Linked DNA regions of Homo sapiens: region 2 is linked to region 1. Evidence: fine-mapped expression QTL. Tissue or cell type: whole blood. Region 1 holds a variant in brackets; the other region holds the start of a gene. All regions are shown on one strand. Distances are from middle to middle.

The links.
Region 2: ATXN10 starts here. The variant in region 1 is fine-mapped to the expression of ATXN10 in whole blood (INTERVAL, PIP above 0.99).

The regions. Positions count from the first base shown.
Region 1 is chr22:45,684,864-45,700,947 of GRCh38, forward strand. ATXN10 (ataxin 10) reads left to right here. Exons shown (of 12, transcript NM_013236.4): 2 at 4,849-5,040; 3 at 8,133-8,215; 4 at 15,419-15,515. Among named protein-coding and RNA genes, the nearest start is that of ATXN10, 21 kb to the left of the region's middle. RefSeq lists an enhancer at 11,559-11,658. The variant T/A (reference allele first, on the strand shown) is at 7,376.
Region 2 is chr22:45,661,929-45,678,012 of GRCh38, forward strand. ATXN10 (ataxin 10) reads left to right here and starts at 9,906. Exons shown (of 12, transcript NM_013236.4): 1 at 9,906-10,251. The coding sequence starts at 10,136. RefSeq lists silencers at 9,579-9,768, 9,829-9,878, 10,209-10,538.

The DNA.
Region 1 (16,084 bases):
TTTTGTTCAATCCTGCCCAGTCAAATCAGCAAGATTATGGTTTTAGATAACAACCAGTGATTGTTGTTTTAATCTGTGAACTTGTGTGGATTTTAATAGTTTTTCTCACTGGCAGTTGTTAAACTACTCTAAACCACATATGCCAGTTTTTAAGTAAATCTAAGGTATTAGAATAAATCTTTTAACAAGTATGAAGGTCTTAGTTGTAGCATTACAATGACTAGCATGTAGCTTTTTTTTTTTTTTCAGTAGGAGGTCCCACCTGATGATTGAACTGTAAAATGTGTGTGCATACAGTATATTAGACCTATCTAACCTGTTACATATAATCACAGGTAGTTTTCTTTAATTTTACTCAAACAGAACTTGCCAAGATTAAACCCTACAGATCTGTTCAAACTTGAGGGAAATGAAATTCTACCTTTTGTATAATTCAAAGGATTTTTTTGGTTCTGTAATGTAACATTTCATTTATACATTGTCTTCAGGGTATGCATTCCTTTGTAATAGGAATGTCTAACGGTTGAATTTTAATTGTCCTTGTAAGTACTTTCCGCCTTCTGTGAATGAAGTAGCTAAGCTTTTTAAAGTCGCTGTACATTTTTTGTTAGTTTGGTTAAAGCAGAAATGACAGCAGTTATTATTAATAACTTTTGTAATATTGGAGTGATTGATCTTTACTATTTCATTGTCGTTAATCATTACACATATTTAGCTGCATTGTCTTGACAGTGAACGTAGATTTTGCAGACAAGAGTATACTAGGACTATTCTGGATCTGTAATGCCAAATAGTTTTCTTTCAAGGCTGTAGAGAAGGTAAAGATGTATAGAAGAGTTAAATGCTTTCATAGTATTTACTGTTACTGAATAAAAGCTTCTTTGTCCTCATCTGATGAAAGTTGTTGACATATTATATTGTATAAAAATATGGTGAATAGAAGCTATAGATATTTATTATATGACTCTAGAGGAAGAGTTTTACTGACACCATTTATAAAAGGAAACACATCTAAAACATGTTCTTTGCTCTTAAGAAATTTAAAATACAGTTAATTGGGTTATAACTCCTCCCAGACCCTCAAGCTTATCCACTGTATCATTTAATGGGAAAGGAGAAATTCGATGTTTGCTTAACAGCAGTCATAAAATATCTATATGATATTCACATCTTAAAATCTGACACGTTTTTAAGTTTCTGAGTAGAGATTATATGGATTTCTTAATGGGAAAGGGAGGGTTGAGCTGATGCCTCACTTTCCCCTTTCTGTTGCTGACTCAAAGGGTACTGATTTCACTGCCTATGTCAGGCTTGATTCCTGGCTCTGAGCACAAGCTCTGTAAGTGCTTGGATTACATAGCAAGGCTGTGATGCAGTCAGGGGCCACTTTTGAGTGTGCAAACAGTCTCATCACTGTTTAAAACTTGAACAAATTCAATTAATGGGTGCCAATTCTGGGCCCTAGAGATACAGAAAAGAATAAGATAGTCTCCATTTTTCAAGGACTTAACAGTCTAGCCGGGGAGATAGGTTATATAAATCTTATCTGATGTGGACAAGTTATTCCAGTCTTATGAACAGATCTCCAGGGCTTCATAGAGGGAGTCTGTTTGTCTGGAAAAGTGGAGGAGTTTCTCCAGGTCTGAGTTTCCCAAAGGTTTGAAAGGAGATGCAGGCCAGGCGCAGTGGCTCACGCATGTAATCCCAACACTCTGGGAGGCCGAGGCGGGCAGATCACGAGGTCAGGAGACCGAGACCAGCCTGACCAAAATGGTGAAACCCTGTCTCTACTAAAATACAAAAAAATTAGCCGGGCGTGGTGGCATGCACCTGTAGTCCCAGCTACTCAGGAGGCTGAGGCAGAAGAATCACTTGAACCCAGGAGGTGGAGGTTGCAGTGAGCTGAGATCACGCTACTGCACTCCAGCCTGGGCAACAGAGCAAGACTCCATCTCAAAAAAAAAAAAAAAAAGGAGATGTAAGTTTCTCCCAGGCAGAGGATTGGGAGATTTGGAGAGGACTTTCTTCTGGTGGTGAGATATGTTTGAGCAAAGACAGAAGATTGGCGAAATCGGGGGTTTTCAGGAATCCATGGTTTACAACCTGGGGAGAGCATATGACAGTGATCACAGCTCCACATTATTTTTTCTTTATACTGCAAACGCGAATTATTGTGTGCCAAATAGATGCTGTCATGATTACTCTTTAGTCGCTATTAATAGTTATTTGGATTTCAGGAATGTTTTGGTTGGCCTTAGCTCAGTTAAATGCTTTTCATTTGGTTAAAATTATTATAAGGGCATGGTGCATATATAACAAATTACCATGTAGCATTGGGAATTATTCACAACATAGTTCATGAACTTAGTATTTATTCTATGGTCGGGAAATCATTTTTCCCATTTTCTTTAAGAATATTGCTTTTCTTCTGTCTTGTTTAGTCTGTACCATAGTTTGATTCCAAAGCTTTTGCTGTGCTAGATACCAATTTTGAGTAAAACAGATGTTACGATTGCAAGGAATGACTTCAGGGAAGACCATTCACGGGGGAAAGGTGGTTCCCATATAAGAGGCAGACGGCAAAGGATCAGGTGAAAGAAATAATTCTCGCTGCTTTCTTACAGCTGTAAATACACATTCTTAGTCATCTCAGTAGGAAAAGAGAGGCGTTATTGAAGCTTATTCAAGTTGCAGAGCTCTACTTTTACTTGACTATAGCATTAAATAATAAATGGCTTCAAAACTTCATGCAGATGGGGCAAATAGAGGTGATTAGTTTTGTTCTTTGTCCTAGAAATTGTGATCAGCCTTAGCATTCTTCATAGTGTTTTAAACTCCTGGTTATTTTCTTAGCTGATGAGTGTCTACAATATATTTGGTACTCCTTAAAGCTACCTTAAGAATGTTAGTGAATCGGCCAGGTGCAGTGGCTCACACCTGTAATCCCAGCACTTTGGGAGGCCGAGGTAGGCAGATCACGAGATCGGGAGTTCGAGACCAGCCTGGCTAATGGTGAAACCCTGTCTCTACTAAAAATACAAAAATTAGCCGGGCGTGGTGGCGTGTGCCTGTAGTCCCAGCTACTCGGGAGGCTGAGGCAGAAGAATTGCTTGAACCCAGGAGGCAGAGGTTGCAGTGAGCCAAGATTGCACCACTGCAACTCCAGCCTGGGCGACAGAGCAAAACTCCGTCTCAAAAAAAAGAGTGTTAGTGAGTATTCTTCCATTCTTCTTACGGCAATGCTGTCACTAAAAAATGGCTTATGTACTTGTTTCATACAGTTTATTGAGGCAAGATTAGTGCTGTACCCTTGAATTTTCATTTCTTAATTTGGTCACTCAGTTGCCGAGACACTGAGTCAAAGTTTCATTATTTACACTCAGGGCTGACTGGGGGAGACATAGACAAATTATTTTATGTGCAGTTTCCCAGTTTTTAATTAATTTATACTCTGCCTCTTTCAAAACCAAGTTTGAGATACCTTAAAAAATAAATACGAGAAAAAGATAAGGGGGGAAATTAGGGGTAGTGGAAAAGCCAGATAGAAAAAGTAAGGATTCATGTTGTTTGGGTCATAAATTTGACTCCAGACTTAAGAAAGGCCCCGACAGAGAGAAAACATAATAAATAATGTGAGTTCTATTGTCTGTTCGTAAGATAAAAACACACATCACTTGGTGTATAAGAAGCCATGGTACTGAAGTTCAAGGAAAGACGTGTTTCCTCTGCCCCCGGAAAAGGGGCTTCCATAGGTGTCTTCTGCGGCAACTGAGCAGCTCTGTAACCTGGGCAGCTCAGTGTCCAGAGTTCTGAATGAACATGTGGCTCCCTGCTGGTCTGGCTCAATCCAAGGGTGAAAGGTAGGGCACTGTGAATCTACAGCGAGAGCAGAAGGAGAAAATTCATATGGTCTGAATCATTTGGCATTTATAGAATCTCTTAAATTGTCCAATGTGGCAACTTTCCTTCTAACGTTAAAAGAGATTTGCTGTTTCTTTAGGGGATTTATGGAATGAGGAAGTTGGCTTGCATTTAGGTGCAATGTTGCACAAAAAATTCTTATCTTTAGAGCTCTGGAATGATAGCCAGTGCAGGCAGTACTCCTGGCATGAGAGGCACGCAGAGACTGAGATGCCCAGAGGGTACAACCACAGGTTCATCTTTCTCCCTGGGCATACATTCTTGGTGGAAGAACAGGCACACTTTACATTCTCCCCCTCTCCTTTCTCTCCCATCTATGTAGTTGACTGTAGAAGTTTGGTGTGTGTGTTGTCAGCCTCACTGTGTCTACAGAGTAGATAGTATCCTTGTCCTACAGGAATATTGTTTCTTATAACTGAACTTAGCTACATATTGGGTGACAGAGGACCAGAATATATTCTCTGTCTAGAACATTAAATAAAGATACTCTGTTCTGATTCAGGGTAGATCCATAAGCATGAGCAGTCACTGGAACTGGGATTTGGGTTGTCATGGGTAGTGGAAGTGCTCAGGCCAGAGTGCTTCACTTGGCCTTGTGTCTCTGCCAGTTACTGGCTGAGTGATTTGTGCAAGTTACTTACCATCTCTACTTCACTTACCTTATCTGTAAATGGAGAGGACAGTGTTGGCCTCATAAGGCTGTTGCAGAGACTGAGATAATACATGAGAAGTGACAAGAACAGTGTCTGGTGCATAGTAAGTGCTCAATATGTGTAGATCTTTTATTTGGTGTTGTAAATTAAGGAGCTAAAGCAGATAAACGTAGCGTACCTCCCCACAATAGTAGATAAAAGCAGTTTTCTGAATAGGACATTTGGAAATCATAATCTTTTTTTTCTGATTCGTGATAATTTTATCCTTTTTCAGAGAAACAGCACCCAGGACTATCTTCCAAAGAGTTCTGGATATCCTAAAGAAATCTTCTCATGCTGTTGAGCTTGCCTGCAGAGATCCATCCCAAGTGGAAAACCTGGCTTCCAGTCTGCAGTTAATAACAGAATGCTTCAGGTGTCTTCGCAATGCTTGCATAGAGTGTTCTGTGAACCAGAATTCAATCAGGTAGTTACACACGTACCTTGGATTCTGTTTCTTTGTATATGTGCATGCTGGTTCTGTCATTTGGTTTATCTGTTAGAAGTTGTTTTGGGCTGGGTAAGGTGGCTCATGCCTGTAATCCCAGCATTTTGGGAGGCTGAGGCAGGAGGATTGCTTGAGTCCAGGAGTTCAAGACCGGCCTGGGCAACATGGTGAGACCCTGTCTCTACAAAAAAAATACAAAAAATTAGCTGGACATGGTGGCGCACACCTGTAGTCCCAACTGCTCAGGAGACTGAGGTGGGAGGATTGCTTGGGCCAGGGAGAGGCAGAGGTTGCAGTAATCTGAGATGATGCCATTGCTGCAGGCTGGGCCACATTGTGAGACCCTGTCTCAGGGAAAAAAAAAAAAAAAAAGTTGTTCTGGCATGATAGTATCACCCACTGTTATTGCAGGATTGCCCTTTACATCTGCTGGGAGAGGCCCTCTACAGGCCTTGCCATTGGAGTCTCTCTGACTAGTGTATAAAATAATGGAGTGTGTTTAACATTAGGGGTTAGATTTCTTGTTTGTTTTTATCACATGTTTTGAGGTATTTGGTTCTTCATAGTGTTTTGAAGCTGATTTTGAGTCTTTGTTCCTAGATTTTACCTGCCTAAGTTTATATGCAGTTCTTGACCTCAGGTTGTAAATGTTTTAATTACTTTTAATGTTTTAATTTGTTACTCTTGTGTTTGGACAAGAAGCATATTTTGTAAATTTACAAGATGACCTGTCTTTCCTAAAGATCATGTAAAGTTCCAAGCTCTGCTTCCACCTATTTTATGATGCGCACATTTTTAAAAGTAGTTAAAACATGAGCAGGCGAGCTGTCCAGTGCTCTTCTTTGCTTTTACGTGTTACCGTCTCCTCCCAGAACACAGCATCTTTCTTCTTTGATTTTGTGGAACCTGCTTTTTATTAAAAATTTTTACTTGAAGTCAGAAGCCACAAACAGGATGCTCACTTTCCTTCCTGGACTTGGATGTAGACAGAGCCTCCAGGCTTCCCTGTCACCACTGTGACGGGTAAGCTTGGGCTGGTCCAGAAGCCACTTGAGGGACTCCCTTCGGTTAGACACATATACCCGAGGCTTTGATATGATTAATGAGATTTTTAAGATCAAAGGAGAGAGGGTAAAAAGTGAGTCGTGTAACTTCAATACTAAACCAAACCTGCCATCCATTTGAGGATAAATGGATAGAAACAACAATAATCTTGATAATAATAGTCTACATTCTAAAACATAACTAGTTATATGCTAGAAGCATCTGGCCAGAAGGCTAGTTTCTTTTGTCCTTTTCCAGTCACAAGGTGCTCTAGTGTGATGGGGAAGGAAAGGAGAGCCGTAGAACTAACTTTTGACTGTGGCTGGCAGATACACCTTTGTGCTTGGCTAATCTTGGTGGGGAAGGGAGTGAGCATTCGTTGAGCCTGCCTTCGGCATTGGGCTTTGTCCCAAGGGTTTTGCTTGTAGTATCTTCTTTAATTCTTAGAACAAACTCAAGAAATTTTTTCATTTTTACAAAAGATGAAACTGTAACTTGGAGAGGTTAAATAACTTGTCTGAGAGTCACTTGTTAAGTGAGAGAGGCTGGGAACATTCTCTCCATATCCAGACATCTGACTCTAAAGCTTAAGCTTAACAAGCAGTCTGCCCTTACTGTTCTGAGCTTAAGCTCAAAAGCAGTCTGGGCCAGGCGCGGTGGCTCACGCCTGTAATCCCAACACTTTGGGAGGCCGAGGCGGGTGAATCATGAGGTCAGGAGTTCGAGACCAGCCTGGCCAGCATGGTGAAACCCTGTCTCTACTAAAAATAAAAAATTAGCTGGGTGTGGTGGCACACACCTGTAGTCCCAGCTACTCTGGAGGCTGAGGCAGGAGAATCACTTGAACGGGGAAAGCGGAGGTTGCAGTGAGCCAAGATTGGGCTACTGCACTTCAGCCTGGGCAACAGAGTGAGACTCCGTCTCAAAAAAAAAAATGCAGTCTACCCTTGCTGTCCTGAGCCTTACACACTGGTCTTGTTGTGGATGACTGCTCCATCTTGACCCTGGACAGGTGACTTGGTCTTCCTGAGTATCAGTTTTGTCCTCTGTAAAACTAGGTAAGCAATGTCTTCCAAACAGGCTGGTTATGGGGTGTAAATGAGATTACTTATGTAAATGCCTAATGCACATTGTGTGCTCAGTAAACATTAAATGTTTCTGCCTCTGCCTCAGGAATGAATGTACAACACAAGTTTATGTTAATACTTTCTTTCAAAGCAGTCAATTTTTATTTTCTTTTTTGAGTAATATATGCAAACTATAAAAATTC[T/A]AACATTACAAAAATAAATACTATGACAAGTAAGTTATCGGTGGTCTTTTGGTAGGGCCAGCAAAGCAAGGGCTGTGCTGTTTGTGATATCTTTTTATTGCATGCAACTTATGGTTGGGCGGAAATGAAAATGAACATTTAAGGGTGTTAATTTTTCTGCCTCTTCCCTTCTAGGATTGTATTATTATTCACTGTTGATTTTTAAAGGAAAATTTCAACCATTTAGGGCAGCAATTTTCAGAAAAGAATTTTCTAGTTAGAAATACTACAAAGATTCTAGTAAAGACTTTGTGGCCAAGCTTAACTAAGGCCAGTATTTCTGAGCCAGTCAAGATTCAGATTGCAACTAGTACATATTTTTCTGATGTTTTACTTTAAGTCGTTAAAGAGTTCATCAAAAGGTGTGATGCTATTAAAGCCTAGATCTTTTTACATCTTTTGCACTTTGTGTGGACTGGGACTGTTTTTGCCAAGAATGCATGGAATGGGGTAAAATACAATAAAGCAAAGAATCTGAGTCATGGGAAACTTCAGGAAGTACTCAAAGAAAGCTGTTGGAAGCAGTTAGCTCTGCATGTAAATATAACCTCTACTGCTAGGGTTGCTATATTTTTCCTGTAAAGAGCCAGATAATAAATAATTTAGGCTTTGTAATCTCTGTCAGATTTCTCAGCTCTCCCATTGTAGTGCAAAAACAGCCATAGACAATATATGAATGAATGAACATGTCTAATTTTGTCTTTTTTAAAAAACCCAGGAACTTGGATACGATTGGTGTTGCTGTTGATTTGATTCTTCTGTTTCGTGAACTGCGAGTGGAACAGGAATCTCTGTTGACAGGTAGCATGCAATATAATTCATGGATTATTTATATCTTTATAAAGGGTTCAAAACCAGTACTTTGAGTATTAACATCATTCATTGAAACACATGTTCTGTATTTCATGAGATAGGGAAACTTTAATAGTGAATTATTAAAGAATTATAAAGTTGTATCAACTTCCCTTCCTGAATGGCTGAATTTTGTTCCTTTCACATTTGTATGTTGAAGTCTGTCTGTTCCAGTTGCTATAACAAAATGCCTTAGGCTGGGTAGTTTATAAACAACAGAAATGTATTGCTTACAGTTCTGGAGGCTGGAAAGTCCAAGATTAAGGTACCAGCAGATTGGGTGTTTTGCGGGGGCTGCTCTCGTCTTCATAGATGGTGCCTCTTGCTTTGTTCTCCTGTGGTGGAAGGTGGAAGGCAGAAGGCATAAACAAGCTCTCTGGGCCCCTTTTATAAGGGCACTAATCCCATTCACGAGGGCTGCACCATCATGACCTAGTCACTTCCCAAAGGCCCCATCTTATACTAGCAAGTTGGGGATTAGATTTCAGCATAGGAATTTCGGAGGGGCACAGATATTCAGATCATAGCATGGTCCTAACCCCCAATACCCAGAATGTGACTGAATTTGGAGATAGGATCTTTAAAGAGGTAATTAAGGTAAAATGAGGGTATATGACTGGTATCCTTATAGGAAGAGGAAATTAGGACATGGCCATGCTCAGAGTAGAGACCATGTGAAGACACAGGGAGAAGATGACCATCTACAGGCCAAGGAGCGAGACCTCAGAAGAAATCAGCCCTCTCGACACCTTGATCTTGGACCTCCAGCCACCAGAACTGTGTAAAAATAAATGTCTGTTGTTTAAGCCATTCAGTCTGTGGTAAGACTTTTAATATTTATGAATGTGACAGGCCCTGGTCCAGGTTTTGGGTGTGATTCAAACAGTGACCAAAACAGACAAAAAGTGTCTGTCCTTAGAGAACTCACATTCCGTTGAGGGGAACCACATGTTAAGTGTCTAAGTCAAGTATCTAGTGTGATGAAAATGGAACTTAGCTCTGATTGTTAACGGTTGTTGACTTGGGATTAAGAGAAACACCACACTTCTTTAGACTCATTAGTAGAATGGTTTTGGTCTTTGTTCTTCTAGCATCAACATCTTTCCTTTGGACAGTGGTTATTATCTTAACATAATGTTTAAAAAAAAAACGTAGATTTTTAATTTATGATCTCTTTGTGCCAGGAATTGAAATACTTTATGGGTAAACCTAAATTATTTGATAAAAAAATCTTAATGTAGGCTGGGTGCCGTGGCTCATGCCTGTAATTCTAGCACTTGGAGAGGCCAAGGTGGACAGATTGCTTGAGCTCAGGTGTTTGAGACCAGCCTGGGTAACATGGTGAAACCCCGTTTCCAAAAAAATACAAAGGCTGGGTGCAGTGGCTCAAGCCTGTAATCCCAGCACTTTGGGAGGCTGAGGCGGGCGGATCATTTGAGGTCAGGAGTTCAAGACCAGCCTGGCCAACATGGTGAAACCCCCTCTCTACTAAAAATACAAAAATTAGCTGGGTGTGATGGCGCATGCTTGTGATCCCAGCTACTCAGGAGGCTGAGGCAGGAGAGTTGATTGAACCTAGGAGATGGAGGTTGTAGTGAGCCGAGATCGTGCCATTGCACTCCAGCCTGGGTGACAAGAGTGAAATTCTGTCTCGAAAAAAAAAAGAACCGGGCATGGTGGCACACGCCTGTAGTCGCAGCTACTTGGAGGCTGAGGTAGGAAGATTGCTTGAGCCTGGGAGGTGGAAGTTGCAGTGAGCTGAGATCACGCCGCTGCACTCCAGCCTGGGTGACAGAGCAAGACTCTGTCTCAAAAAAAAAAAAAAAAAAAAAAAAAACAAAACCCCAGAAAATTTTAATGTAAATTTCCAGGTGGATAAGTTAGATGTACTAAATTATAGGTTAAATTTTGTTGTTGTTGGCTGGGCGCAGTGGCTCACGCCTGTAATCCCAGCACTTTGGGAGGCTGAAGTGGGCGGATCACGAGGTCAGGAGATCTACCTGGCTAACACGGTGAAACCCCGTCTCTAGTAAAAATACAAAAAATTAGCCGGGCATGGTGGTGGGCACCTGTAGTCCCAGCTACTGGGGAGGCTGAGGCAGGAGAATGGCATGCACCCAGGAGGCAGAGCTTGCAGTGAGCCGAGATTGCCGCCACTGAACTCCAGCCTGGGCGACAGAGCGAGACTCCACCTCAAAAAAAAAAAAAAAAATTGTCATTGTAATAACGTCTTTACCTTATAATTCAATGAATATAACCTTTAAATGAGAAGTCTCCAGTTGCATTTAAAATATTATTTGACTTACAAATTGTTTTATATACAGTTTTAATGCCTGTACTTTGCATATAACATGAGGCATATTTCTTTTTTTTTTTTTGAGATGGAGTCTTACTCTGTCGCCCAGGCTGGAGTGCAGTGGTGCGATATTGGCTCGCTGCAACCACCGCCTTCCCGCCGGGTTCAAGCGATTCTCCTGCCTCAGCCTCCCGAGTAGCTGGGATTACAGGCGCCTGCCGCCGCACTCGGCTGATTTTTTGTATTTTTTTATTAGAGATGGGGTTTCACCTTGGCCAGGCAGGTCTTGAACTCCTGACCTCATAATCTACCCACCTCGGCCTCTCAAAGTGCTGGGATTACAGGCATGAACCACCGCACCTGGCCACGTGAGGCATATTTCTATTGATGTTAATATGTGTGCTTCTCTTGGTAGATAGACAAGAACTAGAGGTGATGGTCTTTTTTCACAGGTGAAATAGGCTAAATTAGCGTGTTAGAGCACTGCCTGGTTTGGTTTAATTTCTGTGATTTCCTAGTGTTTTCATTTTAAACTCAGTTTGCTAGAAATTCTTGGATCTTGCTATTTGATTTTGAAGTATTCCTTTAGGAAATGGTAATTAAAAATTAATTACTTCCTTTAAGAATTTACAGACAAAGTGCATCACCATGTTTTTTTGAGCATCAGTTTTTAAAATAATCTCAAGAAATTGAAAGGATGTAGGATTTAGTTGTGAAATGTTTTTACGATATTATATATTTAAAGATACTTCTGTAGCTCTATTTTATAATAAAAGGGAAGCATCAGTACTCAAAATTGGGGAATTATAAATTAGCAGTAAAGTCCGTGTTTCACAGTGTCACTTGGAAGGGCAGCTATTTTGAGGTCTCTGTGTGGTATAGTAATTGAGAAAGAAAGTTGAGAATGTACTGTGTTTTATAATTGGTGATCCTGATGGGGCGGGCAGTGTGGCGCTCCAGAGCTGCTGTGCTGTGGTGGGCGGAAGGAGGTTTCTCTTTTAATGATATATGCTAAATAAAGAAGCAAAGGGGAAGTGCTGTACAAATGCTGTGATTAAATAACTATTAGAATGGAGCCAGCCCCTCCACCATGTGCTGGATTTCATCGCCACTTGCCCACGCAGAAGCTTTTCTCCTGAAATTATCCCCTTGCTCTCAGGCAGCCTCTGTTTTTTTCCTCTTTACTCCATCATTTTCATCAGCAAGTAATATGCCCTCCCATTTTTCATTTAAAAATATCTTCTTTTGACTCCATGTCCCCGTCAGTCCAGTATCTCGTTTTTCTGCTCTATCCCAAATGTGCTACAAAAGATGTATTTAGTTTTTACAATATATGGTAAAAGATTATTTCATCCTTCACAGGATTACTTTCCACTGAAGCAGGTAGATGACCTAAGAAAAAATTTAACGGAGCAGATATCTGAAACTACTTTTATGAACCAGTTTGTCATTGAGGAGTAAATTGGTTATTTGGTTGTTAGCTTGGCTATTCACTCATATTCACTAGGCAGAGAGGGCAGATTCTTACAGACCTGTTACATGTTAGCTGTATTAAATGTTGTTCTTAATTTAGGTAGTTGCATTTGTATGAGTTTAATTGTTTTTTATTGATGTGAGATTCACATATTGTTAACTATTTTAAAGTGAACAATCGAGTGGCATTTAGTACATCCACAGTATTATGCAACTACCATCTCTACCTAATTAAAAAAAAAATTTTTTTTTTTGAGACGGAGTTTGCTCTCGTTGCCCAGGCTGGAGTGCAGTGGCACAATCTCGGCTCACTACAGTCTCCGCCTCCCAGGTTCAAGCAATTCTCCTGCCTCAGCCTCTTGAGTAGTTGGGATTACAGGCACCCACCACCACGCCTGGCTAATTTTTGTATTTTTAGTAGAGATGGAGTTTCACCACATTGGCCAGGCTGGTCTCGAACTCCTGACTTCAGGTGAACCACCCACCTCGGCCTCCGAAAGTGCTGGAATTACAGGCGTGAGCCGCTGCGTCCGGCCTAAAAATCACCCTAAAAGGATACCGTTTTCATTGAGCAGCTGCTCTCTTTCCGCCTCCCTGTAGCCCCTGGCAACCACTACTTAGCATTCTGTCTCTGTAGATCTACCTACTCTGGATACTTCATATAAATGGAATCATAGAATTAATTATGTGACCTTTGGTGTCTTACTCCTTTCACTTAGCATAATGTTTTTATTTATTTATTTATTTTTTTGAGACAGAGTCTCGCTGTCGCCCAGGCTGGAGTGCAGTGGGGCGATCTCGGCTCACTGCAGGCTCCGCCCCCTGGGGTTCACGCCATTCTCCTGCCTCAGCCTCCCGCACAGCTGGGACTACAGGCGCCCGCCACCACGCCCAGCTAATTTTTTGTATTTTTAGTAGAGACGGGGTTTCACCGTGTTAGCCAGGATGGTCTCGATCTCCTGACCTTGTGATCCGCCCGCCTCGGCCTCCCAAAGTGTTGGGATTACAGGCGTGAGCCACCGCTCCTGGCCTTTAGCATAATGTTTTTAAGGTTCATCCACCTTGTAGTGTGTATCATTACTTCGTTCCTCTTTATGGTGGAATAATACTCCGTTGTTTTGATATATCACATTTTGTTTATCCATTCATTGTTTGTTGGACATTTAGGTTGTTTCCACCTTTTGTCTATCATGAGTCATGCTGTTGTGAACATGCTGGTACATCCAATTGTTTATCTGTTTTTATTTCTTTTGGGTGTATACCTAGGAATAGAATTGCTGGGTCATATGGTAACTCTGCTTACCATTTGAGGAGCTGTCAGACTTTTCCATAGCAGCTGAATCATATGACTTTTCACCGACACCATACGAATGTTCCCATTTCTTGCATCCTTGCTGACTCTTTCTTTCTGTGTTGTAGTCATCCTGGTGGGTGTGAAGTGGGGGTACTTCATTGTGGTTTTGATTTGCATTTCCTAAATGATCACGTACTTATTGGCCGTTTGTAAATCTTCTTTGGAGAAATGTCTATTTGAGTCCTTTGTCCAGTTTTCAATTGGGCTGTTTGTGTCTATTTCTTGTAGAGTTGTAAAGGTTTTCTATACATTGTAGATACTTGGGATAATATTGAATCTATAGATCAATTGGGGAAGAATTGCCATCTTAACACTATTGAGTTTTCAAGTTCATGAATATGGAACATCTCTCTATTTATTCAGGACTTATTTAATTTTTCAGTTGTGTTCCTATTTAGTAGATAGCTTGTGTTTCGCCACAGATGTTATTGGAAGGATATTATTGAGGCAGGAAGGAAAATGGAAAGGAAGTAATATTTCTCATCACCTTGAAAACGGCAGCTAGTGAAATGACCGAATTTTAGTTGGAATTCAGCAATGAAATTTGGATTCAACAGTGAAACTTAGAAAAAATTTTATGGTGTGTTAGTTCAAACCTAATACAAATAATCTTTTAAAAAGTATTCTGGTTCCTAACAAAGCGCCTGTACTTTTTTGACTCTTTCTCTGTGAGAACTTTATTCTAGGTAGATTTTTTAGCAGGGTATGTGTGCCAGTTTTTTGTTACCACACTTGAGGTAAGAACTGTAATTACATTGTCAAAATAATATTTAGAGTATTATTTTCAGGGAATAATTGCAGTGGTATGACGAATATATTATGCCCATCAAATTTTATGTAAACACAAGCATGAGTTATTTTAATTGAGTTATTGGTGTTGTTTTTGGCCTTTATTCTTTCTTACTCTGTAAAAATAATGTTGGGATTTTTGAGGGTCTTCATAACATTTGCAGTATTTACATAAAGATCAGTTGATAAGCTGTTTGGTAAAGTAAACTGTCATTTGTACCTGTCTGGAGTTTTCTTTTCTTGTGTCTGGGACATCTTTAAGCCTTTTCCTTTTCAGAATTGTGTTCTGATCCTGAGCATTAATCTTATGTGCCTGATGAGTTGTTGGATCAGTTGGTTTTCAGATCAACCTATACTGTTGGCTTTTTGCATGTTCAGTTTTATACAGATCTGAGTGTTAATATTCTAAAATATTCAGTAGAAATCTTTTTTTTTTTCTTTTTCTTTCCTTTTTTTTTTTTTTTTTTTGAGACAGGGTCTGGGTCTGTCTCCCCGGCTGGATGCAGTGGCTTAATCTTGGCTCACTGGAACCTCCACCTCCTGGGTTCAAGCAATTCTCCCTGCCTCAGCCTCCTAAGTAGCTGGGATTACAGACGCCTTCCACCACGCCTGGCTAATTTTTGTGTTTTCAGTAGTGACGGGGTTTCATCACGTTGGCCAGGCTGGTCTCGAACTCCTGACCTCAGGTGATCCGCACCCCCCTCGTCTTCCCAGAGTGCTGGGATTACGGGTGTGAGCCACTGCACCCAGGCAATAAGTTAATTAATTTTGTATGTAGAGTATATTGTTTTGGTAAGGCATATTAATTTTTTTTTTTTTTTTTGAGACAGAGTCTCACTCTGTCTCCCAGGCTGGAGTGCAGTGGCGTGATCTTGGCCCACTGCAACCTCTGCCTCCCAGGTTCAAGCAATTCTCATGCCCCAGCCTCCCAAGTAATTTTTTTTACTTTTAGTAGAGATGGGGTTTTGACATATTGGCCAGGCTGGTCTTGAACTCCTGGCCTCAAGTGATCCACCCGCCTTGGCCTCCCAAAGTGCTGGGATTACAGGCGTGAGCCGCCGCTCCCAGCCATGGCATATTCATGTTATTCCCAAAGTGAACTTGTGGAGACAGACTTTAATTTTTAAAAGAAGCAAGCAGAAACTTTCTGTTTAATAACATGGAGAATATTTCTTAAGATGCATTTATTTATTGTGTTTAATCATTTATTTATTTATTTATAACTTTTATATATTCTTAGCTTTTCGCTGTGGCCTGCAGTTTTTAGGCAACATTGCCTCACGGAATGAAGATTCCCAGTCTATTGTTTGGGTGCATGCTTTCCCAGAACTGTTTTTGTGAGTATATTGATAAGCATTTTTCTAACTTGTGAGAAGATTGTGGCTATATTTTTCCATTTTATATAAAGTTCGAAAACAGGAAAAAGTAACCCACTGTAATAGAGTTCAGGATAGTAGTTGTTCTTGGTGGGTGGGTACCAGCTGGGAGAGGGCACTAGGGAAACACCTGGGTCCTGGAAGTGTTCGTCTATATCTTGACCTTGGTGGTGGTTACATGGATGTATACATATCCAAACTTTGTTCATTGAGCTGTATGTACACTTAAGATTTATGCCCTTGATTGTATATCAGTTTACTTTTACAAAAATAAAGTCATGGATAAAGTAAGTAATATTGTTAAGGACACTGAAATTTATAAGAAACACAATTAAAATAGAGCATCAAAGTATGGGCAATGAATTAAAATTGTTTATGTATTGAATACTGATATGCTGAGCACAATGCTGTATGTTTTGGAAGATAAGAAGAAGATGTGGATAAACAATCAGTTTATCCATGTAAGAAGTGAGTAACCAGTCCATTTATCAGTGTAAGATGTGGGTAACCATTCCATTTGTCTCGATTGG
Region 2 (16,084 bases), 23 kb before region 1:
TTTTGGCTATTATTTCTTCACATACTTTTTTTTGGGGGGTCCTGTTTTCTCTTTCCTGTCCTTCTAGCCTTGCAATTACACTAATATTTGAAAATCTGATATCCTCTAACAGGTCCCTGATATTCTTTCTCTTTGTTGTTTAAAAAATATATATTTTTTCAGCCAGGTGCTCATAATTGAACTCCTGGCCTCAAGTGATCTGCCCGCCTTGGCCTCCCAAAGTGTTGGGATTACAGGCGTGAGCCATCATGTCCAGCCCTTTTTAATCATTTCTATTTCTCTGCTGAGATTGATCATTTTCTCTCTTGAGGTTTTTATTCACTGAAGTCATGTTTTGTTTTACCTCATTTAATTTAGTTATAATCATTGCTTTAAAATCTGTCAGTTCTCACATCTAGTTCATCTCATGGACAGATTTGATTTTCTTTTCTCTTGAGAATGTTCTCTAATTTCATATTTGTATTTCAGGTAACTTTTGGATTGTATTTTGATACTATTAATAGTAAGCTGTGGGGATTCTGGATTCTGTTATTTTCCTCTGTGGAGTGTTGTTTCCTTTGTTTTCATAGACAATTTTCTTATGTGGGCTTGGGCTGAAAACTCTATTTCTTCAGGGGCAGTTCCAGTTTTGCGTCAGATCTTTTGTATTTAGTTGAGCTGCTTTGGGTCTACACCACATGATAAGGTTTATTAAGTGGGCAGTCAGCTATACGGATATAATTAATTTGGGGATCCCCTCTATCTTGGTCCATTTCCTGCTGCTTATAACAGAATATCTGAAACTGGGTAACTTATAAAGAAAAGAAATTTATTTCTTACAGTTATGGAGGCTGAAAAGTCCAAAATTGAGGGGCTGCATTTGGCGAGAGGCTTCTTGCTGAAGGGGACTCTCTCCAGAGTCCCAAGGCAGTGCAGGGCATCACATAGTGAGGGGGCTGAGGGTACTAGCTCAGGTCTCTCTTCCTCTTCTTATAGAGCCACCAGACCCACTCCCAAGATAACCAATTAATCCATTATTCTATGAATAGATTAATCCATTCATGAGGACAGCTCTCATGAACCAGTCACTCCTTAAAGGCCCTACCTGTCAATACTGCCACATTGGGGATTAAAATCTCAACATGAGTTTTGGACAGGAGAAACATTCAAAGCATAGCACCCTCTCTGGCTCTTTCCCTTTTGGGATTTTTCCCATTCTCTTCAGTGTTCAATTTTCATACATTTACTTTTATGTTTCCCCAGGCCAGAAAGAATGCAGAGTTTTGCACATGTGCCCCCAACCATTGCTGTGCACATCCACGTGCTACAATTAGTCCCAGGCTAAAAGCTACAGAGATGTGAACCTACTTGTATAGCTCCCCATCTCCCTTCCTCCAAGTGAGGAGGTACTCCTCATCAGAGTCTGCGTCTGTTCACTCTCAAGCCCTTCAGGTGGTTGTTTTTTGTAGTATATCTAGGTTTTATGATTATTTACTATGGGGTACATAAGTGTGGGGGTCACCAAGTAGGGTCTTCGTCCATCTTACCCAGAAGTGGAAGTTTGTCATGAATTGGTCCGCAGAGCACTTTGAATAGTCCTGGCCTAAACCACTGTCTCAATGATGGCCCCATTCAGAATGGCATTTGCAAGTTTCTCTTCCATAGTTTTCTACCAGATGTTTATAAGTGAGGTTCAATACCAGATAATGTCAAAACTAATAGAGGAATTCCCAGTTCAGGCAGAGGGAGCACAAAGTGCCAATAATATCCAAATATTGTTTGGTACTGATTGACTTGACAAAGCTCATTTCACAAAAAACCGTTCTGGCTTTTACAGACTGTTCTCAATGGATTTCCCTTCTTTCCTGTCAATGGATTTTCTTTCTTTGCTGGCCTTTGACTTTCTGTGATCTTGGCTGCTGGGAAGTATAAGGCAGAGGAAGTCCTTAGGCAGGAGATAAACCTGGGCCTGTTCCTACAGAGGTGGTCTTTTGAGAGTCCTGGGGTCACTAGTTGGGACAGCAGAAGGCAAAAGTCCCAGGTAGTGTTATGATGGTTTGGAGCAGAGCCATGTCATGAATATTTTAATTTTTTATTTTAAACCCTATGAGACATTGTTGCTTTATGATTGTTTTGTACTTTGGATGTTCATTTAGATGAAGCGGATGGTAAATACCATTCTCAGTCTTCTTTATTCCTTTCTGTGTCTCTCATCTTCCATCTGGGATTGTTTTTGTCTCTAATTCACACTCTTTTGTATTTCCTTTACCATGGATCTGTTGGCAGTTATTTTTATTTTTCAGCACATCCAAGATAGCATTCCACTATTTTGGTTTCCAGTGTTTCTGTGGAGGATACAGCTTACTGAATCCTCACTCCTTTAAAAATAAACTGTCTTTTTATTCCCCTGTGGCTTCTTATCAGATTTTGTCTTTGTCTTTTTGCATAACTTCACTAGATGTGAATATATGGTGTGTTTATATTTAGATGTCTTTTCGTGTATTCTGCTTTCTATTCATTGAGCTTCTTGAATCTGTGGTTTGGAATCTTTCATCAGTTTTGGCAGATTCTCAGCTATTCTCCTAGGTATTGCCTCTGTTACAATTACATGTGTTAGACTTTCTCAACTTATTTTCTGCATCTCTTAGCTCTTCTGTATTTTTTGTATTTTAATTTCTTCATTCTGGATAGTTTCTTTCTAAATCTTCCAGTTCATTTATTCTCTCTTTAGGTCTCTCTAACCTGTTTTAATCCCATCAATTGAGTTGTTACTGTGTTATTTCTAATTTCAGTTCCAGAATTTCTATTTATTTATTATATAAATACACTATTTCACTTTTTATAGTTCAATACCTTGCTTGGACTTTTGAACTATTTCTTTTTTCTTTTTTGAGATGGAGTCTCACTCTGTTGCCCAGGCTAGAGTGCAGTGGCGTGGTCTCGGCTCACTGCAACCTCTGCCTCCTGGGTTCAAGTAATTCTCCTGCCTCAGCCTCCCAAGTAGCTGGGATTACAGGTGCATGCCACCGCGCCCGGCTAATTTTTTGTATTTTTAGTAGGGACGGGGTTTCACCATGTTGGCCAGGCTGGTCTCAAATTCCTGACCTCATGATCTGCCCACCTCAGCCTCCCAAAGTGCTGGGATTACAGGCGTGAGCCACTGCGCCTGGCCGAATTATTTCTTTGAACATAGTAAACCTGTTGTGTCATTGCCATGTTCCATTCCAATAGCTTAAGTTTTTGTGGATCAGTTTCTGTTGTATGTTGCTTCTGCTGGTTCTTATAATTTCTGGTTTCCCTGTAGAGTGAGTTATTTTTGTGTTGTTCACTCTATTTGAGAAGTATTTGTAGAAATAATTTGATGCTTAGGATGGCACATTCTTCCAAAGATGGTTTTCATTTGCTTCTGTCATGTGTCTAAATGTGCCACCATTCTGGGTCTGTCTTAATCCCAATTCAGGTGTTTTGGTTCCTTGGATCAACCAGGTGACAAAGAGGTTTTTGAAATATTTCATTTGGGTTTAAAATAAAAGTTTTTCTCATTCAGAGGATAGCTTTAAATAACTTGGCGTGACATTACCAGAAGTGAAGCTTTTTCTGTTTTATGAAGCTTCTTGTATAAGGCAGGGATTACATCTTTTCTCCATGTTTGGTAGAACCATATATAAAGTCAGCTGGTTTGAGGCTATATTTTGGTGCTTCATTTTCTGGAATGTATTTCCACCTTTGTTTGTCTAGTGCTCATACAATTATTTAAGATTCAGCTTACATGGTTTCTCTAGTTGTATTTCTTCATCTCTCCAGCTTCTTAGCTCTTTATACATCTTTTTTCTGACATGATTTATTATGCTATCTTATCAGTATATATTTCTGTTTTCCTTTAATAGACTCAGAGGTTATTCATGACTAAGGTATTATATTATTCATCTTCATAAGACTAGGTTCTAATATAGTCCATGATAGATGCTCAAATCTTCTGGTTAAATTGAAATATGAAAAATAAAATGTAAAATGGATTGGTAACAATCATAAGGAATAGCTTAATAACTTTACAAATTACATAAAAATAATTGATCCCCACAAGGCAACTATTACTAACATCAGAATCATCACCTCAAATACCGGTAGTCTATTGTCAGTCACTTATTACCAATTATATCTTGACCGTACTCACGATTTCCTACGTGTTTCCTACTGTTTCTCATTTGCCCAACTACCTAACAGCTTTTGATCTCCTTGCCCACTTCGTTCTTTCTACTTTCTCACTTTTACACCACACAGTTCGCTGTTAACACGTATTGAACTAAGCTAAATATATGACAGACTCTGAATTGACTATCATCAAATCTTCCCAACAATTTAATTAAATAGGTGCTATTACTATTCCATTTTACAAATGAAAAAAAAAAGGCTTAAAGAGATGGTTACTTGTCCAAGTTCAGGTGCTAAGAGATAAAAGAGGGATTCACATCACCCAGGTCTGTCTGACTCCAGAGCTCATGTTCTTTACCAGAAGTTGGCAAACCTTTTCTAAAAAGAACCATATAGTTAATATTTTAGGCTTTGGAGGCCATACAGTCTCTGTAGCAACAAGTCAATTCTGCCACTTTAGTGCCAAAATAGCCACAGAGAATATGTAAATGAATGACTATGACAGTTTCTAACACAATTTTATTTACGAAAATAGGTGGCGGGAAGAGTTTGGCTCATAGGTGATAGTGTGCCAATCCCTGCTCTGAACAAGTACACTACTCTGTTATTTTTTTCTCCTTTTTCTCAATCTCCAGAGTTTTCCATTCAACAGATATTGATAGCATTGCTTCTAAGCACAGGGCTGGGATGAAGATGAGAAAATCCCTGCCTTGAGGGACCTCAGATGTGGAAGAGGAGGGCATAAACACACATCTATAGCACAGGCTGACTATGGAAAGTCAGTGCCAAAAGAGAGGCACAGGCTGACCAGAGATTCTTCTGAAGAACACATGAGATCTTGTGGAGTTGGTGATATATGACAAAAGCTTTCTAGCAAGAGCATCGTAGGCAGAGATGCTAAGAAGGATGTTTCCAACAGAAAAGCCAGCAGAAGCACACATTTTTCTATCCACTTGTCACTTATCTTCTACTCAGTCTCTCTTTTTTTTTTTTTTTTTTTGAGACAGAGTCTCGCTCTGTTGTCCAGGCTGGAGTGCAGTGGTGTGATCTCAGCTCACTGCAAGCTCCGCCTCCCAGGTACACACCGTTCTCCTGCCTCAGCCTCCCGAGTAGCTGGGACTACAGGTGCCCACCACCATGCCTGGCTAATTTTTTGTATTTTTAGTAAAGACGGGTTTCACCTTGTTAGCCAGGATGGTCTCGATCTCCTGACCTCATGATCCACCCGCCCTGGCCTCCGAAAGTGCTGGGATTACAGGTGTGAGCCACCGCACCCGGCCTCATCTTCTATTCTCTTTACCAGTATTCACTTACTTCCTCTTTCTTTTCCTTGCCAAAATCATATGCACTTTGGTCCAAATCTGTTTTTGCCTTGCACCTCATCTACTTTCTTCTCTGATTTTCTTTTTTGCCTTCCTTCCTTTTCTTTTCTTTGTATTTACTTCCTTCTTGATTACTGAGTCATTGCTGATTCAATTCTTCTGCAGTGGGCTCAAGGTACAAATTTATATCACAAATTTCATTTGAAGTCGAATTCACGTACATCAACATGGTGGCATGTTCATCTGGTTTGTCTAAGTCAAACAGCTATATAACATTAACAATGTCATTTAGCCCTAGTGAAATATTAACTTGGTTCTGTCAATTCAGTCAAGGTTGAAATCCTCTAGTCGATTTTGGGCAGTCAATAACATCCACTGTTTGACCAGTTTAATTTCCTTTCGTTTCTCTTATGCGTATTTCTACTTTTTGTCTGTCCTGTTAATCTCTCTGTTTTAATCTTTTCCCTTATAATTTTTCTTCTTTTTCCATCAGCCTCCTTTTCTGTACTTTTTGGATTATTGCACTTCTTCTAGAGGCATGCTATCTCCTTTCTCCTTTCTGCAGATATATATATATATATATATATATATGTATATTTATTTATTTATTTATTTAGAGATGGAGTCTTGCTCTGTCACCCAGGCTGGAGTGTAATGGCGTGCTCTCAGCTCACTGCAACCTCTGCCTCCCAGGCTCAAGTGATTCTCCTGCCTCAGCGTCCTGAGTAGCTGGGATTACAGGTGCCTGCCACCATGCCTGGCTAATTTTTTTCTGTATTTTTAGTAGAGATGGGGGTTTCACCATGTTGGCCAGGCTGGTCTCAAACTGCTGACCTCAGGCGATCTGCCTGCCTCCGCCTCCCAAAGTGCTGGGATTACAACCGTAAGCAGGCATGAGCCACCGCGTCCGGCCTCTGCTGATATAGTTAAAAAGATTCTTTGTTCATTAATTCAACTTTTATTGAGCAATTACCACATAGTAGGTCTTTTTCTAGGTGCTGGGCTGGAGATACAAAAATAACCAAAAGAGACAAAAATCTCTACCCTTGTAGAGCTTACATTCTAGTAGTAAGTGAAATAGATAAGCAACAATAAACAAAATAGAAAAGTAAGTTATATATCAAGTATTAAGTGCTATGCGGAAAATTCCTGGGGATCAGGAATTTGGGTAGCCTGTTACAATTTTAAATAGATTGATCAGGAAGGTTGTTAAAAGATCATTTGAACAGGTAGTTGAAGGAAATAAGGAAGCAAGTCATGGAGATGTTTGTGAGGAGTTGTTCTATACAAAAACAAAAACAAAAACACCAGCATATACAAACTCCTAAGGCAGGAGAGTTCTTTTCCTGGTGGAGTTATGGGATTTAAAAAAAAAAAAGGAAAAACAAAACTTTATCTGAGGAATATGATCTCCTTTAAATGATCGGGCCTAGAGAAGCATTGGAATGAAACACCAATCATGTCTCTCCTCCTTGAGCTGAATACTTACCTCTTTTCAAAAGGAATTATTACTATTTTTTAAAGACAGGGTCTCTCTCTATTACCCAGGCTGGACTGCAGTGGTGTGGTAATAGCTCACTGAGGCCTTCAACTCCTAGGCTCAATGAATCCTCCCATTTCAGCCTCTGGAGTAGCTGGGACTATTGCCATGTACCACCATGCCTAATTTTTTAAAAATTTTTTCGTAGAGATGGGGGGTCTCACACTATGTTGTGCAGGCTGGTCTCAGACTCCTGGGCTCAAGCAATCCTCCTGCCTCAGCCACCCAAAGCACTGAGACTACAGGCATGAGCCACCATGCCTGGCCTAATTACCTCTTGAAGCCACATTCTATTTGGCCTCTAGACGAACTGATGTCAACTAGCTACACAATGGCATACAATCTATAGTTCAACATTGTACAGCCAATCATTAACCAACATTATTTCTTAAACCAATGAGAATTCATGACAAACAACCTTTTAAATCACCCTCTCTCCTGATTCGTCCTTTTTTCTTTAAAAAGTTGAGCTTCTCTTTCGTTCTCCAGAGCACTCCCCAAGGCAACTTGGATGTGTGTCCTGGACTGCAATGCTCACGTTGGCCCAAATAAACTCTTTATATTGATTTTACCTCAGCTTATTCCTTTTAAATAGACAGAGGACAATAAGGAGGTCAGTATGGCTGAAGCACAATGGAAGAGGAAGAGGCTAGTAGATGTGATTAGAGCCCACAGGGGCTGGAGGTGATGGCGAAGGAGGAGGCAGGTCATTTAGGGGCTTTTCTATTGGAAGAACTTGGCTTTTACTCTGAGTGAAATGGAAATCCCTTAGAGGGTTTTGGGCAGAGTTAAATGTTGAAATATTTTTTAAACGATCTAAAACGTAAGGAAGCAAGAGCAGAGGCCAAAAGACCAATCAGGAATATATTACAATATTCCAGGCAAGAAGTATGAATATTATAGGGAATGTTTTTCTGGGAATGTTACATTTGAGAATAAGAAAACTAAAGGCCAGGTTTTTTTGTTTGTTTGTTTGAGACAGAGTCTCCCTCTGTTGCCCAGGCTGGAATGCAGTGGTATGATCTCAGCTCAGTGCAACGTGTGCCTTCCAGGTTCAAGCAATTCCCTTGTCTCAGCCTCCCAAATGGCTGGGACTACAGGCACCCGCCACCATGCCTGGCTAATTTTTAGTAGAAAGGGGGTTTTGCCATGTTGGCCAGACTGATCTTGAACTCCTGACCTCAAGTGATCTGCCCGCCTCGGCCTCCCAAAGTGCTGGGATTACAGGCATGAGCCACCGTGTCTGGCCTAAAGATCAGGATTTTGGTGCATAACAAGTACATTTTACTATCCTGTGCTCCTCAAGGGAAAATTAAGAGATTTTTGCCCTGTTAGCTTAAGGAGTGTTAAACATTTTGCATTGTCTTGAGCACTGCTACTAATAAGTGATCTAATACCTGGCACATAGTACACCGCAATATTCGTGGAATGAATAAATACATACTCAATTAAATGGGTAAACTGAATGACAATATCAAGTAACTTGCTTGTGCAGCAGCATTCATTTCCCTCCCTCCTTTTTTTTTTTTTTTTTTTTTTTTTTTGATACAGGGTATCATTCTGCCACCCAGGCTGGAGTGCAGTGGTGTGATCACAGCTCACTGCAGCCTCGACCTCCTGGGCTCAAGTAATCCTCCTGCCTTGGCCACCCAAAGTGCTGGGATTACAGGCATGAGCCACCATGCCCCACCAGGATTCACTTTTTCTGCATACTCTGGTGGTGTTTATTGTTATCTTTACATTTTATTTAGCAAAGAATGTTAAAAGCGCCATGTTATAAGCACACTCCTACCCTCCAAGCAGAATGTAAAGGGTATGTATTTATATATTTTAAGTGGTCCCACAGCAATTTGTACAGTTATAGCAGTTCACAACTATACTCAGTTATGTTTGCTTCTCTCCTTCTCAATAGTCTGTGAGGTTCCTTCAGGTTTGGAACTGTCTTTTATTAATCTTTACATCTCCAGCACCTAGCGCAGGGCTTAGCAACAATTTTTGTTGAAAGTATATACACTGTAATAAAGGGCAGTGGAAAGAAAATATGTGAGTTATCAACACCAGCTAGAGAAGCCTTGTCTGATTCCTGTGAAATATATTCATTTCCCTTAGGAAAAAAAACAATTCTAACCCTATTGCTGTGTAACTTAGCTTCTTGACTTCGAACGGTATTTTAAGGCTTTGAGGAGCTGGAGCAATGTATACTCACTAGAGGCAAAGTGCCTGGTAAGTGGTCTGGTATTGATCAGCAATGATCAGTAAGTACTGGGAAGTGCGTTTTCAGGGCCTGAGACTTGCAAGCTAGTGACAGACCGCTCCAGCTTCCAGTGGACCCGGGCGGGGGCACTGATCAACCCACTTGAGCAGTGGGATCAAGGTCTTCAGCCTTAGCAGTGGGAGCCTCTGCCCGGCCCCCTTCGTTCCCGAGACCCTCAGTCAGCGTCTCCTCCCAAGAGGGTCCCCTCCACCCAGAATGTCCTCCCCTGGGGGAGACCACTCTGTCTGCGGGCCCCCTCCCACAGGAGGGCCCCTCTTCCTCAAGGTGAACCTCTGTCCCCGATACCCGCTCCCAAGACCGAGACCTTGTTACGGCCCCACCCTCCACAGGCCCCTTACCCCCCGGATCCCCTCCCCTGGGGGAGACCCCTCTGTCCGCGGGCACCCTCCTATAGGACGCGCCCCTCTTTCTCAGGGTGAACCTCTGGTTCCCGATACCCGCTCCCAAGACCGAGACCCTGTTACGGCCACATCAACACAGGTCCCCCTCCCCCCGGCGTCCCCTCCCCTCGGAGGAGCCCCGTCTGCGACGCTTCCCAGTCAATCACCCCCAGCATCCCTCCCCGCTCTCACCCAGAACTTCCGCCGCGCCCCCTCCCCTCAGGCGGGACTTCCGCCGGCGCCCCCTCCCCCGCGGCGCCGTCTCCTCCTCCCGCCTGAGGCGAGTCTGGGCTCAGCCTAGAGCTCTCCGGCGGCGGCGCAGCTTCAGGGCAGCGCGGGCTGCAGCGGCGGCGGCGGTTAGGGCTGTGTAGGGCGAGGCCTCCCCCTTCCTCCTCGCCATCCTACTCCTCCCTCCTCGTCATCCTCCCCCTTCGTCCTCCTCGCCTTCCTCCTCCTCGTCAGGCTCGACCCAGCTGTGAGCGGCAAGATGGCGGCGCCCAGGCCGCCGCCTGCCAGGCTGTCGGGCGTCATGGTGCCGGCGCCCATCCAAGACCTGGAGGCCCTGCGCGCGCTCACGGCGCTCTTCAAAGAGCAGCGGAACCGGTAACGGGTCCGGCCGGGGGGCTGCCCCGGGCAGGGGAGGGCGGCCGGGACTCCCGCGGCGGCCCCGGCCTGGACCCAGGCGCCGCCCCCGCCTCGCTGGAGACGCGGAGGGCGAGGCCTGCGCGGGCTGCCTGAGCGCCACCCAGGCCTCCCGACTCCCAGGCACCGCCTCGTGCTCGTGGGTCCCCGCGGGGCCTGGGGCGGGCGCCCCGCTCCCCCACCGCAGCCAGTCCGGGTGCGAAGCCGCGATCCCGGGAGCCCTTGCCGCGGCGTGCCGGTGATGTTGACCCAACACACGGTTAGGCCTCCCCTGTCATGTGCGAGGGCTGCGCCAGGCCCTGGCTGCAAGACCCACGCGGCCCCCAGAGTCATAAAGCGTGTGTTTTAGCGGGAGAGACCCGTGTTACGGACGCGGGAATTGGGCAGTTGCGGGGATGGCAGTCTCTAGGCATGGAGTGGGACTGGCACTCCTTTCTCCTCGGCGTTAGAGCCCAGGCTGCACCATCTGCCCTGGGGGCAGCGCTCTGTGCAGTGTGGAAGAGCACGGGCCTGGAGAGACCAGTCCAGTCCTGATGCCACTGAGGGGCAAGATAGCCAGGCAAAAAGAGAAGGTGCCCAGGAGTCGACAGTTGTGGATTTGGTTCCTGGCCTTGCAAGCTGCGTGTTACTGTGCAGTTTCTCCAGGCCTTAGAATTCTTGTCTAAAAATGGGACTATAATACACAGCTTAGTTGCTGGATTGTACAGAGGAATAAATGAAATAAAGTACGTGAAAATATAAAATGTGCGAAGCCCTCAGTCAATGCTTGTTTGATCTTGTTCTGTCCTCTGGGCCTCAGTTTTCTTGTCTATTTAATGGGAGTAAAGTTGAACAGTACCTCCCTGGTGATAGTGTCATAAGGAGTAAATGAGATATAATGCATATTAAATCCTTAGGACATACCTGTACATAGCACTAAATGTAGCTGATATTATCACTTAACACATTGATTGGTAGTTACCCATGTATCAGCTATTGTGCTAGGTGATGGGGTAGGAAAATGGAAAGTCCTTGCTCTCTCCTGTACTAGTATGTACAAGATAACACAGCTGTGGGGGTATGTATGTACAAAGCAGAGGGAACATTGAAGAAAGAAATACTGAGACTTGGGTCAGCCTAGGTGATCACTAGAGGACTTCCTCTCTTTAAACTAGACACCTGGTCTGAGCACTTCCTTTACCTCACATCACTTTGGGAAATGTGGAGCTGCTGAAGGAATGCTATTAATAAAAGTCCCTGGTACTGCTCTATGGGCCTTTGGGGGAGATGTATTTATTGATTTAATGCTTAGGCATTTCTGTATCATGATGGACCCTCCTTTTAGTTAATAACCCAGTCATCAACCATTTATTGAGCACCTACTATGAAACAGATTTTTTTGTTGGGGTCTGAGGGTACAGAGAGGAATGATGTGAGTGATCCCTTTTATCAGGCATATTTGGGAAATAGCTAAATAAACACATTGTAATGGAAATCTATACAAGAGGTGGTGGCACAGGGGAGCATGTGGATATGTTGGAAGATTGGCGAGCCAGGAGAGGCTTTTTAAGGTTATTTCAGGTGCTCGGTTATAGATGAGAGGACTAGAGGGAACAGTGTCTGCAAAGGGGCCATATGTTAATTTTGCAAAACCGATGAGACAATTAAGTAACATAGATAAGGTTTCTCGTACAGAAGAGACATTTAGTCAGACATCAGTTCCCTTTTTATAACTTGGAGAAAATCCAAGCCCCTGAGCCAGTTTAGAAGGCCCTTCTTGACTCTATCTCTTGTGAGGGAAGAAGTTACAGAGAACCATTGATGGTTTTTGTCAAGGGAGTGGCGCGATAAGATCTGCCTGTTAGATCTTCCTGGCCGCCTCCGCCTCCATTGTGGGGAATAAATGAGAGGACGAAGCTAGAGACAGGGGGGACCTTTAAGGAGTGGTAGCGGAAGCCCATGTGAAAGAGAAAAGTGCCTAAATTAGGACATTGTGGGGATGAGTAGAATAAATACTGAGAGATACAAGGTTGAATGGACAGGACTCGGACCAGTTGGATTGTGGGGGGGAGAATGAGGAAATGAGGATGCTTCCCAGATTTCATCTGAGTTCTGGGACAGTGTCCTTGTTCCAGGCAGAGATTGGAGACCAGGAAAGGTGAACTGATGTGCAGGTCCTGGCATGGAAAGACACAGTTGTGTGGTGGTGCAGAGAACTCATGATCAGGGTTTATAAGGACAGGCTTCTGGTCCTGGTTCTGTCACTGCTTCTCTTTGTCTTTGGACAAATTATAAGGGTCTTGTGGGGCTGGGCCCAGACTCCTGCTCCTCTGAGAGGATCCCTCCAGTTCTGATGCTCAGGGAGCCAGTGTTTGTCCTTGGGGGTCTCCTCTTCAGAGAGGACATAGGGCTGTTGTCTAGTATGAACAGGAACACAGATGGATCCAGGGGGAGGATGGGCCAAGGTGTTAGAAGGTGGACGAGACAAAAAGCCAGGCAAAATGAGTCCTCAGTGTAGCAAATAGAAAACAGCAGACAAAAAGCAAAAACAGTGAGGAAAGTAATTAAGAGATTCTTCTCTTTTGGTGGAATACATTATTTCTCTAGGATTCCATTTTATATTTGAAGAATCATAGACATAATGTAGTTGGTGGTCCTTCTGAGCTCTTCCATGCTACAAAACAAACTTCTGTCAGTGGTAGCTTGAGTAATAGAAGTGTCATGCAGTGGGAAGAGCAGTGGCTTTGGAACCATGGAGACCTGGATGTGAATCCTGGTTTAGTTTGTGAGGCTTCTTGTTTCTTTCCTTGAAAACGGGATGATGGTAGCCACTTTGACAGATTATTTTGAGGATCTGTAATATTATATGTGTAGCATAGTGGTTTATGCATAGTAAATGCCATTTATTTAGGACCTGTTATTAAAATATAACAAGGTTGTAAGTGACCAAGAATCCATTTGTGTTGAATCTCCTGTCTTATCAGAAACAAAAATTGCAGCTATTTCAGGAAGACAGTTCTAATTTTGGGGTTTCCGGAGAAGGGGATCTCAGGATCTCATTACAATTTTAGCAGCCCCCAAGTGAAAAGAAATTCTTACATCCCATTGTGGGAATTTTAAATATGTCCACAAATTCTTTGATACTCTGACCTTCTCAAGAGGAGGAGGTTAATTCTTTTCTCCTTGAGTGTGGGCTGAACTTAGTGACTTGCTCCTGAAGAGTAGAATATGGTAGAAGTGACAGTGTGCGACTTCTCAGACTAGGTCATAAAAAGCATCGTAGTTTCCTCTTTGCTAGCTCTTTCTTGAATCACCCACTCTGACAAAGCCAGCTGCCATGTCATGAGGACACTCAAGCATCCATATGCAGAGAGCTGTGTGGTGAGGAGCTGAGGCCTCCTTTGAACAGCCATGTGATGAACTACCTTGGAAGCAGGTCCTCTGAGCTCCAGTCACATCCTCAGCCACGTGTGCAACCTCATGAGACACCCTAAGCCTCTCAGATCTGTGTGAGATCATAAATGTTATTGTTTTAAAATGCTAAATTTTGGGCTAATTTGCTATGTAGCAATACATCATTAATACACCAGTCTTAATTCTCCATGCTGTGTATTAAATGCATTCTGTAACCCACTTCTTAAACAGTGTCTTGGTCACTAAAATAATTTAAACATATTGCTTATGGTCATATAATATCAGTATTGAGATATTCCTCAGCTGTTTCTTCTCTGTGTAAGATAATTCTTTTTTCTCACATTTGTTTTATACTTTTTGTTTAATGTAGATATCACCGTATTTCACATTTGTTTAACAAGTGATTTATCTTGCTGTGAGTCTTTGCAAGTCATGTTAAATTCTTTCTGAACAAGTAAGACAAACATTTAAAATTCTATTTTAGTTGCTCCTTTAATTATTTTTCTTTTTTTTTTCCGAGACAGGGCCTCACTTTGTCATCCAGGTTGGAGTGCATTTTTTCTAGAGAAGGGGGTCTCACTATGTTGCCCAGGCTGGTCTCGAACTCCTGGCCTCAAGTGATCCTCCTGCCTCGGCCTCCCAAAGTGTTGGGATTACAGGCATGAGCCACCGTACCTGGCTAGTTGCCTTTATGATGCATCCATGAGGCATCTCCAGACCCCACAAAGTGTAGAGCCAGGTGAGATGGGTTGTCATACTCCATCTGTGCTGTTCATTAAGTAGCCACTAGCTACATGTAGCTACTTAATTAATTGAAAATAAGTAAAATTAATGTTTCATTTCCTTAGTTGCATTAGCCATATTTTTTAATTTGTTTTTTTTTTTTTGAGACAGTTTCACTCTTGTTGCCCAGGTTGGAGTGCAGTGGTGTGATCTTGGCTCACTGCAACCTTCGCCTCCCGGGTTCAAGCGATTCACCTGCCTCAGCTTCCCGAGTAGTTGGAATTACAGGCATACGCCACCACACCTGGCTAATTTTGTATTTTTAATAGAGACGGGGTTTCTCCACGTTGGTCAGGTTGGTCTTGAACTCCCGACCTCAGGTGATCCGCCTGCCTTGGCCTCCCAAAGTGCTGGGATTACAGGCATGAGCCACCGTGCCCTGCCCTTTATTACTATTTTTTTAGAGACAGGGTCTCACTCTGTTGCCCAAGCTGGAGTGCAGTGGCACGATCATAGTTCACTGCATCCTCGACTTCCTGGGCTCAAGCAATCCTCCTGCCTCCTTCCCCAGTAGCTGGGACTACAGGTGTACACCACCATGCCCAGATAATTTTTTTGTTTATTTTTTGTAGAGATGGGGTCTCGCCATGTTGCCCAGGCTGGCATTAGCCATATTTTAAGTGCTCATTGGCCACATGTGATGTGACAGCACAGATATAGAATATTTCCATCATCACAGAAAGTTCTGGAAATAGTGCTCTTCTGTAGTAAGTTTTCTATAGGGGAGATTGTATTTTGACTCTTGAGTATTCTTGAAATAATGGAACATTTGGATGCTGCTTTCTATAAATTCATCTCATACTTAAACTGATACCTCATTGGTCTTCCACCTGATGAGCTTCTTGAATGAAGTGGGCACATCACATTCACTGTATGCCTGGCATCTAGCATAGAGTTGATAGTGGCAGATGCTTATCAGTTTCTTGTGGAGTTGCTGCTATTTCTATAACTTATTACTCATTGCACTTGCTTGGTCTTTTTCTTAGTCGTGTAGACAGTAATTTTTTTTTTCAGCTTCTATCAGTATAGCTCATTTTTTCTCTTCAATCTGCTTAGACAAAATGAGGTTTTCGTTGGTGTTTAATTTAAAAATTAAAAAAAAATTCAGGCCAAAAGGTCTTAAAAAAAAAAAAAAGAAAAGGCAAGTCCTGGACTTAGAGAAGTATTTAAAATATATATGATAAAGAAGTTGTTTCAGAATATATGAAGTACTCCTACCTACAACTCAATAAAAAAGACTCCTACAACTCAATTTAAAAATTGGGCAAAATCTGTGCTTTACAAAGAAAAATAAAGGCCAATAAGCGTATGATAAAGTGCTCCAAATCACTAGTTATTAGGGAAATGCAGTTAAAACTTCAGTGAGAGACTACTGCATGCCGTTTAGGATGGCTATTATCCAAAAAATGGAAAAGAACAAGTATCGTTGAGGATGTGGGGAAATGGGAACCCTTGTGTGTTGCTAGTGGACATGTAAAGTGGTGCTGCTACTATGGAAAATAATTTGGTGGGTCCTCAAAAAGCTAAACATGGAATATGACCAAGCAGTTTTACTCTTAGGTATGTGCCCGAAGAAAATGAAAAAGGACAAATTCTGTATGATTCTGCTTTTATGAAG